Linked DNA regions of Homo sapiens: regions 2 and 3 are each linked to region 1. The links come from fine-mapping of genetic effects on gene expression. A gene starts in region 1. Each other region holds a variant in brackets. All regions are shown on one strand. Distances are between the middles of the regions. Region 1 holds the start of MAEA (macrophage erythroblast attacher, E3 ubiquitin ligase). Region 2 overlaps CTBP1 (C-terminal binding protein 1). Region 3 overlaps MAEA (macrophage erythroblast attacher, E3 ubiquitin ligase).

Region 1 (4,053 bases):
TAACTATTACCAGGTGAAGATCCAGTCCAGAGCATGCCAGCTGCTACCACCCTGCAGGAGGACTTGCTCTCAGACTAGAGAAGCAGAACATCCACCCCCCACCTTCCACAACCCCGGTCCTGCAGCCCTCGGTCCCTTCTCTGACATCTGCACTGGCCCCTCCTGGAAACTGAAGAGTGCAGCTCTTGAGCTGTGAGCTCAGCATGTTCTGTTTAGTTCTATACCAATAAATGCTTCTAAATCAAGGATCCCTAGTTTCCCAGCAAAACACCTCCATTATCCACTAGGAATCACTCCTGAAAACTTCTATGAAAAAAAGTTTTAACTCAGTAGTGACACAAGTGTCAACAGAGAAATTATGACACTATAATATTTCTTTACCTGTATGACTATCTGCATGACTATTTTAATCAGAAGCTATGCAATCACTCTGGAATACAAATTACATTCACGATTACAAAACAGCAGAAGACCTGAAGAAGAATCCTTTCCGGAGACCTTCCATCTCCCTTCCTAGTTCCTTCAATACACAATGAAAGGATTTCTGGAAACTTTTCCTATCTAGTGTTTCCCACATTCACCAGCCAGTACCAGAAGTGACAAACCACCACGGTTCTGATCTTCAAACCTTCTTGTGTGTTAGCTGAAATGACAGGCCTGGAGGTGCACTGCGTGAGACAAAGTGGTCAGTGGTTAGGACTCCCTACTAATATCACCACAATGTCCTTGTATAGACTTCTCTCAGCTGCAGGGTCTCCATCTCTAAACCAACAGAGATCCACCAATGTCACTGAGTATTAAAAACCAACCACCTACATCTTGGAGGGATCTAGCAAGAGGCTAGACCTTTGGTAACGTCAGCAACATTGCCCTCCCTTCCTTGATCAAAAGAAGTGCTGGACACACAAGCACCATGAAACCCCACTGCGAAACCATTAGTGTGGCGGGCGCGTGGCTCACACCTGTCAGCCCAGCGCTTTGGGAGGTCAAAAGGCAGGAGGATCGCTTAAGTCCTGGAATCCAAAACCACCCTAGGCAACAGTGAAACCCCGTTTCTTTTTAAAAATATGAAATAAACCGCTAGTTAATAAAGAGGAGGAGAAGCTTGCTTCTGCTTTCCTATGAAGACCAGCTACAGCAGGGTACAGCCTGACTTCAGCAGCGCTAACTGTAGCAGGGACCTTTTAATGAATGCTAGGCACTGTTTGAAACAATACGTGGTCACTCATTTCACCCTGAGGTGACACAGGCGCTACCACTGCTTAAACCTGACAAGAATAAACAGTCACCAACCGGGCCCTGATGTCTCCCAGTAAGGACGAATACAGAGAAGCCTGATTCACACCCCAGCAGGATGGCTCACAGCCTGTGCTCTTCAGCCCTTCGCTGAACTGCCCTGGGGCTGGGGGAACGCACAGCAACCTGGCCATACTGCATCCTCCACACCTGTCGCCACACCGTCCGTCCTCAGACGGACGTGAACACCAGGGCGCTCTGGGAGGAGAGAGAAACTACGCAGCTCTCCAGGAAGGCAACACAGAACCACGAAGCTCAGCCGCAGCTCTAGGAAAGCTATGACCTTGATCTTTTAAGGAATTCCTTCCCAGGTGCTTCATATCAAATCCTCTACTAACTAGGTAAAGAACAAGTATCGGCTCCTTCTACTAGGAGCACAAATTTCATTCTAAGAAGTGCGACGTGGCTAGGTGACCACCCAAGGTCACGCAACCGGCAGCCGGACGGCAAGAGCTGTATTTCAGGTTTGGTGACGCCCATCAAAAAGGTCGCTGGGTGCCATCAGGCCGTGAGGTTTCTCCCTACAGTTCCTAACTAGCGACCGGCGCAGCCGGCACCTCCCAGCCCTGGGCTCCCGGGAGGGCGGCCGGGCACTGGCTGGGCACGCCGCGCACTCCGTCTGCCTGGGCGCCAGAGACCCCACGCCCCGCAAACTCCGGCTTCCACCCCAGCCCCAAATTCGCCACCCTTAGCGCTGCCAGAGTCGTCGCTGGCTCGGCTCACGCAGCTCTTCAAGCAGAGGGGCCACAGTCGGGCGCCTGGCAGGGCCAAAGCCGCCGCCCCCGCCACACCTGCCCGGCGCGGACCGGGCGCCCCTGAGAAGCCCGCACGGCCCCGCGAGGCCGCGCCCAGCTCCCGCCGCCCTCGCCGCTGGCCCTCCCGGGGCGGCCCCTCGCGGCCCGAGGGCACTGGCTGGAGACGCCTTCGCTGCCCTCAGCCTGCGCGGCGCAGGCGCCCACCTTGAGGGTCGGGTACTCCTGGACCTTCAGGGTCATGGACAACTGAGCCGCCGACTCCTGCACCGCCATCTTGAAGCGGCCAAAACATTAGCGGGCGGGGGACGCGCGAGCGCGCTGCACGCCGGGAAATGACGCCACGCGCCGGCCGGAGCAGGATGGGGGCGGGCCGATGCCCCTGCACCAATCGTATCCGCCCAGTCGGCCGGAGGCGGAAGAAGGCGCGAACCAATCACTGCCGGGTTTCCTCTCGTTCAGCCAATCAACGATAGCCCCGGCTGGCGGTTTCCACCTTGAATTCGCTACCGGGTTCAGGCCGCAGACGCCGGAGCTGGGGATGCTCCTGGCCCGGGGCGGGCCGATGGGGTGCGGGCTGCGGCCCGGGCGGGTGGAGCTGGGGCCGAGCGGGCTGGGGGACTTGGCGTCCGTCCAGTTACTTGGGGCTCCCGCGGGGTGGTCCCCTGTGGGTCCCTCGTGCCTGCGGTACCAAGGGCAACGCCAACAAAACGCCTGGCCGCATGCGCCTGTAGCCAGCTATTTTTCTTTGGCCTTATTTTGACCGATTTACAGCTGCTGGAATCCTGATGTGGAACCTCCGACTTCCCAACGGAAGAGGAAAGGCCCAGTACCTAAAACTGATTTATGGACAGAAACTCCCGAAGCATGAGAAGCGTGTGGCCTCTCCGCCCTCTCCTTGCAGGGCGGGCAGCGCTGGCATCCAGGTCGTGCGCTGCCTTCATTTCAGCCACTTCACATTCTCAGCCTTTCAAACACCACCCGTCTCCCTCCTTTCCAAAATAAAACTGAAATTAGATTTTATTAATTAGGAAATGACGTCCCAATTAAACCACCTTGTGTTTCACATAACACATTTCTAAACAACTTTTAAAATATTTGGTGTTTAAACAAAGGAAAAACATCTAAGGTGACACAGCGATGAAGGGAGAACCTCCGCTTGGAGGCTGCTACATGTTACAGCCGCAAGACATCCGACCCGCACTGTGGAATCTTTCTCTGTCTTACTTAAACAGGAGTTGGGACTAAGGAAAGTGTTATTCCTCAAGTGTGTGGCTGCAGACTCCAGTCTTTTAGACATTTGAAGTAAGTTTTACAGTGAGGTGCACAAATCTTAACTATACAGCTTTAATGAATTTTCACCCATATTTGCACTTTTATCTAACCGTGTCCTGGTTGAGATTTAGGACATTTCCCGTGGCACAGAAAGCTCCTCTGCCCCTTCCCGGGCTATATCCCCATCATTCTAACCCTGCTCCCCGTAACAGCGTTCCTGACCTTCCTATAGAGATGGAAGCATGCACTCTGTACTCTTTGCGTCCTTTCACGGTTCGCATCGTGTCTGCCACTCTCCGGGATGGTCCCAGTAGTACACAGGAGCACTGCAGCAGTTGGATGGACTGCACTCCTCTTAGAGACTGCCTTCACTTCACCAGGGATTCAAGATTAACCCAAAGGAAAGGACACGGGTTTCATTTCCATGGTAAAATGATCCTATCCTAGTACCATCTACAGTCAGAAATACTTAGGAATTATAAGGCAGAGGTTTGCACGTTGGAGAGGTTGTTTAACCCTCTACAACCTTTGAGTCATTCATTCTAGGTTTTCTTATGTTGGAAGATAAAACTGTATTTGAATTAGTCCTTTTGTAAACCAAAAAGTGTCTGAGACAGATCTCAATCAGTTTAGAAGTTTATGTTGCCAAGGTTAAGGATCATGACCAGTGACACAGCCTCAAGAGGTCCTCAGAACACATGCCCAAGGTGGTTGGGTTACAGCTTGATTT
Region 2 (4,053 bases), 67 kb after region 1:
ATGGGCTTCATGGGCACATAGATAACACACGGATGTCACAGTACACAGCCTCACACAGAAATCAGAGCACACATGTGGGCCTCACACAGACATCATGGCACACACAGACATCACACACCGATGTCACAGTACACATACTGGCCTGCACGGATGTCATAGATGCCACAGCACACATGTGGGCCTCACAGACATCACAGTATACATGACCTCACGGGCGCACACAGAAATCACACATGGACATCACAGCACAGACGTGGACCTCACGGGCACACACAGATAACACAGATGTCACAGCACACAGCCTCACACAGATATCACAACACACCCATGGGTCTCACACTGGCCTGCACGGACGTCACAGCACACAGGGCCTGCACAGATGTCACACACAACACCACAGCACACATACAGGCCTCACACAAGACATCGTGGCACACACAGACATCACACACGGATGTCACAGCACACACGTGGGCCTCACGGGCCTGCACGGATGTCACACGCCACAGCACACGTGGGCCTCACAGACATCACACACGGACATCACAGCACACACAGGCCTCATGGGCACGCACAGATAACACACAGATGTCACAGTACACACAGCCTCACACAGCACACATGGGTCTCACACAGGCCTGCATAGACATCACACGGACATCACAGCACACACGTGGACCCCACACAGACATCACACATGGACATCGCAGCACACACATGGGCCGCACGGGGACATACAGATGTCACAGCACACACACACGGGTATCACATGGCACACATGGGCACCACACATGGATATCACACCATACACATGACCTCACATGGACACACATTGATGTCAGTCATGGGCACGTACGCAGATAGATACCGGCATATGTGTGGGCACGCACATCAACCACGGTCTAGCATGTGCTCGCCCCTTGAGTCCCCTGGAGCTGGCTGTGTAGATCCTGCTGGGGCCGGGGTTCGGGCAGCCGTGGGCTTCCTCCGTGGTCACCAGCAGCTGCCCCTGGCGCTGGCCCTATCCCCGGGGAGTGGTTTGCCTTTCAGCGACCCCTCGCTCTTCATTTGCCCACTCGCTTTGCAGCCGCCTATCCTGGGCCCAGCACTGTCCTGGGTCCGGCATGCAGCGGTGAACCGGCCCCACACAGCCAGGCCCAGGTTGAGCTCAGAGCGGCAAGCGTGTGCATGTTTGTGCACGTGTGTGTGTGCGTGTGTGAGATCCTGGGAGTAGAGCCATGTCTTAAGGGAAAGTAGAGCTGGGAGAGGCCAGGTGAGGGGCCCCGTGAGGGAGGGGGAGCATCTGGGCGGGGCCCAGGTGTGGGGTGGGAAGGTGCTCCCTGAGAGGGTGGGCGGGGGTGGTGTACCTTTTCTGAAGACTCCCTGGACACCTTGGCCCAGCTGCCTGTCTCCCCAGATCGCGGGTTCCTCAGGAGGCCCCATGGGGATGCAAGGGCCTTGCCATGCCAGGGACTCCCCTTGACCGGCCGGCCCCCCGCTTCCCAAACATCCAGGCAGCCCACTCCTGCTGACCGCTGTCCTTGTCCCGCCAGCGTTTGGGGAATCGGACGTTTCGGGTGGTCTCGGTGAGGCGGCCACACCTAGGTTAGTGGGAGAGGTTGGTTCACGGATGTGCATGGAACACGTGCCTGTCTCTTCCTGGACACGTCTCTCACGGTCTTGCTGGTGCCCCCACCAGGACCCCAGGGCTGGCTGGAGCCTGTGAGGATCCCAGAGCCCTGAGGTGCCTGTTCCTCACACCTCTGCCCATCTGAGGCCTGGGCGGCCCCTCCTATGTCAGGGCCATGGCCCGCATGTGTGGTTTGTTGAGGGGAGGAGGGAGGGTGGGCAGGAAGCCCAGGTTGGGGCAGAGGTCGGGAGGGGCCGGGGACTCGGGGCTCTGTGGACCTTCAGATTCGTGGACTGCCTGCTGGCCTTGTCCAGGG[G/T]GCGGTGCCTCCGCTGTCTCCAGAGCAAGCCCACAGGACAGGAGGCGCCTCATGTGTGCCTTGCCTGCAGGTCACCGCCTGTCCTGCAGCCACAGGTCTGACACCTCACCTGAGGTGTACGAGGGACTGTGGGATGTGGGGGGGGTATGGGCTGTGTCTGTGTGGCCAGGGATGTCTGTAGTTCCCCTGGTAAGAGTAGGTGGGTGTGTTGCCCCCAGAGTCATGTGTCCTGTCTCTCCTGGGGTCGGGGTCTGTGGTCCCGGCCCTGAAGGCCCCGGGCTCTTCCCGTGGCCACTCTGAGGCCTGAGGGCGGCGCCTTCCCAGGCTGATTGTGGAGCTGGGCCCAACCAGCCCCTCCCAGGGCCCCGTGCTGAGTGGGGGTTGGAACACCCAGGTCGGGATGCCCTCAGAGGGTAGGGCTGTGGCCACCCCGTTCGTTAAGGACCCCACCTGCCAGGGCCCCCGCCCAGGCCTGGCCTGAGGAGTGTGGGTGGGGACTGCAGGTGCGGGGACCCCGGCGTCCTGAGGAGTGCAGGGTGGACCTGGCAGGTTGTGGGGGTTTACCATGGGCGTTCTGCCCTGCACTGGCCCAGGTCGTCCTGTGGGCTCTCGGGCAGGCCCCCCTGGAGCTGCTGGGGGGCAGCTGCTTCCCTCGCTCTCGGCGCGGGCCCCTCTGTCTGTGGTGATCTTGTGATGAACCAGGCCAGGTCAGCGCTCCCTCGGCCTCGGGAGCTGAGGAGAGCAGTTCTGTCCTTAGGGACACGAGCCCCCTGACGCTGCAGCCTCTACCTTGTGGACGGGACCCCTACCCCACCCCGGCTGCCCACCTGGCACCCTTGACTGCAGAACACCTGCGTCCCGTCCCCCGCCCCGCCCCTCGCCCTTGTCCCTGAGCCCCATCCCACCCTCTGTGGAAGAGCCTCATGCTCCAGGCGGGGCCGGTGCTGGGCACCAGCCACTCAGGCTCTCCCAGGGTGTGCATGTCCCCATCTGCCCTCTGCTGTGCACACACTGTCTGGGTTGTTCTTAGCGTGGAATCCGCGTGTGTGGTGGCTACAGGAATGTGGAAGCCCTGGGCAGCGTGTGGCTCACGGTGTTGGTGCCACTCGGCGCAGACTAGGGGGCGGCCGCTTCCTCTGCTCTACGAGGCTCTGGTGCCCGTGACTTACATCTCCTTCTTGTTTCTTTCTTTCCTCCCTCCTTCCCTTCCTTCCTTCCTTCTGAAAAATGCACTGTCTTAGGTGCACACAGGAAAACATTGTACACATTCACCCCATGAACCCACCAGCACGTTGACAGAGCAGGCTCCTGCACACAGACAGCTCCCTCGGGCCCCCTTCTCCCGTGGCGGCCCCGCGACGACCCTGCGAGGACCCGGGTCCCGCTTCCTAGAGCAGAGGGCCTTCCCCAGCTGTGCCGAGGTGGGATCACGGGCACGCAGCCTTCTGTGTCCGCCTCCCGTCAGTCGGGGTGATGCCTCTGGGTCTCACCTGTGTTTTCATACGACCCAGCAGTTTCTGATAACGGTTCCATCACGTGAACACAGCACGATTTGCTTCTCCAGACTCTTGGTGATGCATTTTGTAAGTTTTTGGCTAATATTACAAACAAAACTTGTGTGAACACATTTCTGCCCGTCTTTTTTGTGCACATAGACTCACGTCTCTTGGGTTTGTACCTAGGAGTGGAATTTCTGAGTCCCAGAGCAGGACATTGTTTCGCCTGGAAGGAGTCGCTGTTCTTCAGGCAGGGGCGCGGCGTCATGCTCCGGCAGCCGCGTATCCTTGCCAGCACTCTGTGTAATTCTAGCCCTTCCAGCAGGTATTTTGTGATATTTTAATTTTAACCTATAGTTTCCTGATAAGTGAGGAGGCTGAGCACCTCTTTGTGCCCTTGGCCACTCGGAGCACCTCCGGCCGTCTTTTTCGTGTTGGTTACGAAGCCCTCACGTGGTCTGCGTCAGGTTCTTGTCAGATCGACATGCATTGTGGATATTTTCATAATTTCAAAATTTTTGTTTTTTCTTGTTTACGAATATCTCAGGCCGTGGCTTGACTTTTCACTTTCTTGACCTCTCTCTGTGACGAGAACACGTTTTCAGTTTTTA
Region 3 (4,053 bases), 40 kb before region 1:
GATTATAGGCATGAGCCGCTGCACCCGGCCTGCATTTTTAAGTTGAAAAATCTGAGCTAACAGCTTTTATGTCAGAGTCTAGGTACAAAGTAATCGCCTCACTCCAAGCCGACCTGCTGGGTGGGGCTGGGATGGCGGGAGGTGCGGCTCACCAGAGGCTGGAGGAGCAGCTACCAGACACTCCTTCCTCCAGGGGACCAGGGCACCCAAGCCACACAGACAACCCACGGAAAACACCAGAACTGCAAATGGCACCTGCCCCCGAGGGCTCTCCAAAGCGATTCTGGTTTACAAGGAACCCAAACCCTGAGGATTCCCACTCTCCCCAGATGCTCGCCCCCACGGACCCCGTGGCCCCAGCGGACCAAGAACGTGTAGTCTTCTCAACTGCAGTCCTTGCTGTTTGGCAGTGACGCCCAGCACAACCTTCCGAAGAACAGCCTCCCTCAGCCCACAGGCTGGACTCCCTGCAGATCCGGCCCAGCCCTCTCAGCCCTGAGCGTGCCACACACCACATGCAGCCACGATCTTTCCTGAGCCAACTCTGCGGGATGCACACAGGCCTACTCCAGGCCAGAACCCCACTCCAGTCTAAGGCTGGGCAACCAAGAAACCAAAGCAGAACATAACAGATCCCTTTCAAGCTGACCAGCGGGCACCTGCTCACCCCCAGGGCCCCCATTCTCATGCCCCCCCCCACACACAGGGTCACTGTCCCTCTGGCTGTCCTGAGGGCCTGCACCCCCATGTCCTGACCCTCACACGGGCCCCTGTGCACCCCACGTTCTCAGCCCTCAGGGCCCCTCTGCCAAAGCGACCCCAATGCACAGAACCAGGGGCCTCAAGTCCCATGTGTGAGTCAGCCCTGTGCTGTCCAGAACAAGGCATGTACCAAGGAACACAGGGCTGAGGAGGTGCCAGGCGCTCACGGTGGCCTTGGAGAAGATGCAGTGTCTCGCAGAGACTGGAGTTAGTGTAGGAGGTGGCCCAGCAGCCCCTTGATGGATAGCACGGGGACCACGTGTTGGAAGCACCACCAGGAGAGCCCGGGGCAGCAGGGAGTGGGGGGCGTCCACGCTTGGGACCCAGCCTGGGGAGTCCACATGGCTGACGCCCCAGGGCCTGTGCAGGGCCTGGGAGTCGGGGGTGAATCCACACGGCCGACCCCGCAGGGTGCATACAGGGACTGGGAGTCGGGGGTGAGTCCACACGGCTGACCCCGCAGGGTGCGTGTGCAGGGGCTGGGGACGGCCATCCGAGATTCCAGTGCCCATGCATCCCCCTCCTTGGAGCGTGTGGGTGGGCGTGGGTCTGAGTCCAGGAGGAGCCCCACCCAACCCCCTCATTCCATCTCTGGAGACAAGTCACCCTTCGTCACACGCCAAGACGTGCACAGAACACGGCCAACGGGCATCTCACCTCCTCCCAGAGCTGCTGAAGAGAGGAAATTTAATCTCCGTGGTTGACATCTACAAGATCTCATTTGCATGACCTGGTTTACGCGTCTTATCTCACCATCAATCAAACCCCAGACAGACATCATCCGCCTAACAAGCTGCCTCACCTCGCACCCCAGGTCCCTGATCCACAAATCCTGACCCCAAGACAGAAACAGAAAACCTAACAGTGGCGGCTGACTCTTTTCAGATCGTTTGATGCCAGCATTCAGCCCCAACACACAGAGAACTGCAGCCGAGATGTGGGGCCCTCAGAGCAGGTCCGGGGAGAACAGCACGGTATGCATCCACAGGACACAGGGGAAACAAAACCGTGACTTTTAACAAACTAAATGCAGCTAACATAAGAAACACAAAAACTTCCATTTTTCTTTAAAAATATAAACACACGGGCCAGGCACGGTGGCTCACGCCTGTAATCCCAGCACTTTGGGAGGCCAAGGTGGGCGGATCACAAGGTCAGGAGTT[T/C]GAGACCAGCCTGGCCAACATGGTGAAACCCCATCTCTACTAAAAATACAAAAATTAGCCGGGCGTGGTGGTGGGCGCCTGTAATCCCAGCTACTCAGAGGCTGAGGCAGGACAATCACTTGAACCCGGGAGGCGGAGGTTGCGGTGAGCTGAGATTGTGCCAGGCAACAGAGCAAAACTCAACCTCAAAACACACACACACACACACGGAAAGAGAGAGAGAGAGAAACACCCAGAAGACAAAATTCCTAAACTGTGCCTGGCCAGGCTGAGGTGTGGGTGTGCGACAGACGGCACGGAGCTGCTCACACAAAGCCCATGAAGTACAGGCCAGGTCCCAGCCGCCTGGGGTCAGGGATTCACTTACTCATTTACTAAAAATTAAAGGCGTTAAAAGTTAATCACTAGCAGCTCATACTTTTGCATTTCGCAAAAACCCACAAATGCCCCAGGCAGGGCGGAGCTGCAGCCACCCCAGCCAACGAGGCCCCCTGCCCGGCCCAGCACGCTGGCTCCACAGACAGCAGGACTCACCTTGCCTGCCCCAGTGGACCCAGAGGCTAGGCTGCTGGCCTCAAGCCCTGTAGATGGTGCCCGACGCTCCAGCGCCATGTGGACCGTGAGTTCAGAGGTGGACGGGAAGCTCCTGCGGGCTGGGACCCTGGCAGCAGGTGAGAGGGCCCTGCCTGGAGCCCTCAGGAGACATGTGGCCAGGCTTCTCCGCCTTCCCTCTTGTCCAGCCTCAGTGAGTGATACACAACACCCTCTGGGCTCCCAGCCAAACACCCGCACTCCCTCACCCCACAAACGTCCTGCCGATGCCCCACCTGCCACCCCAGCCCAGCTCCCGTGTGCCTTGTGGGTGGCTCCAGGGCCACGCTGAGCTGAGGCCGGACTTCCCTGACCAGGCCCTGGCACCTGGAGAACCACTCCCAAGACGGCCCCAGCAGAGGATGTAGCTCACACTGCGCCTGCCCCCGAGACACTGGGGTGTTGTTTGCCATGCCTGCCCGGCTGGCTGCTGAGGCTTCGAGGCAGCACGTGTCTGCTTGCGGGAGGAAGGACACGCACTTCCTGGGACCTGCCTGCTCCCCTGCAACAGACGAGGCCGCAGAGGGCACAGCTCTGAGCTCGGCTCAGACATTATGAGGTGGAGGCCCCGCGAGTCTCTAGGGCAGATTCTACCCAGAGCAGGGGGAACAAGGCAAAGAGACCCTACACGGAGCGGGGGGAACACAGGCAAAGAGACCCTACGCGGAGCGGGGGGAACACAGGTAAACAGACCCTACACGGAGCCAGGGTAACACAGGCAAATAGACCCTATGCGGAGTGGGGGTAACAGGTCAACAGACCCTATGCGGAACCAGCTGCCACCTAGATGAAGACATCTGTGACGGAGGGACTCCGGGATGGACACGTTTTGTTTTCAGACTCCAGGGCTGACAGTGGCCGGGGCCCTCAAGGAGACGGAGGCTGACTCGGGATGGAAGCAGACTGCCGCCGGACAGAGGCCAGCGACACAGGCACCGAGGCCACACGGAGGCCAGAGCAGAGCGGGAGCCCCTCCTCTTGACAGGGGGCCCCTGGCCGTGTCCCCGCAATGCTCACACGCCACTCTCCACTGGCCCGGGTCCCGAGATCCCCGCTTTAGCCCTCTCAGGCACAGAAGGGACCTCGTTGCAGGCCTGGCTCCCTCGTGCGTGAAGACGAGGCCTGACCTGCCACCATGCGCCCAGGTCAGCATCAGGAGCCGGAGCAGGACCCCGGGCCTCTCCAGGGTCCACGCAAGGGCAGGGACTTGCCGCGGTTCTGCCGTGCGTCTTGGGGACCACCCTCAGCACCTCATCGTGAGACGCCCACTTCTCCAAATGGGCCTTCTGTGGAACACTCGGCCACCCGGCCCACTGCAGGTGGATATGGAGTCGCGGTCGGGTTTCTGTGGGCATGGACAGGTGCCCCCTCCTGGCAAACACACCTGCTGGGCACTCGCCCGGGAGCTGAGGGCCAGCCAGGCCCACACACCCCACACAGCAACTCAAGCGTCACCGCAAGGCTTGGCCGCTCAGGAACCTCCATGAAAGTGAGTGAGACGACCTAGCACTCAAGGAGCAGCCCTGCCCCGAGACGG

Evidence for each region.
Region 2: its variant is fine-mapped to the expression of MAEA in whole blood (TOPMed, PIP 0.95).
Region 3: its variant is fine-mapped to the expression of MAEA in thyroid (GTEx, PIP above 0.99). The same link has a PIP of 0.9 or more in spleen, testis and visceral fat.

Annotation. Positions count from the first base shown.
Region 1 is chr4:1,288,185-1,292,237 of GRCh38, reverse strand. MAEA (macrophage erythroblast attacher, E3 ubiquitin ligase) reads right to left here and starts at 2,347. Exons shown (of 9, transcript NM_001017405.3): 1 at 2,256-2,347. The coding sequence starts at 2,324. It overlaps LOC105374347 (a long non-coding RNA gene), which reads left to right and starts at 2,667. Exons shown (of 3, transcript XR_925046.3): 1 at 2,667-3,353. It overlaps LOC105374346 (a long non-coding RNA gene), which reads right to left. Exons shown (of 2, transcript XR_925043.3): 2 at 3,944-4,053. RefSeq lists silencers at 766-948, 2,037-2,316, 2,417-2,826.
Region 2 is chr4:1,220,974-1,225,026 of GRCh38, reverse strand. The region is part of intron 5 of CTBP1 (C-terminal binding protein 1); the gene reads left to right. Among named protein-coding and RNA genes, the nearest start is that of CTBP1-AS, 13 kb to the right of the region's middle. The variant G/T (reference allele first, on the strand shown) is at 1,947.
Region 3 is chr4:1,328,410-1,332,462 of GRCh38, reverse strand. All of the region lies in intron 5 of MAEA (macrophage erythroblast attacher, E3 ubiquitin ligase), which reads right to left. Among named protein-coding and RNA genes, the nearest start is that of UVSSA, 17 kb to the left of the region's middle. The variant T/C (reference allele first, on the strand shown) is at 1,926.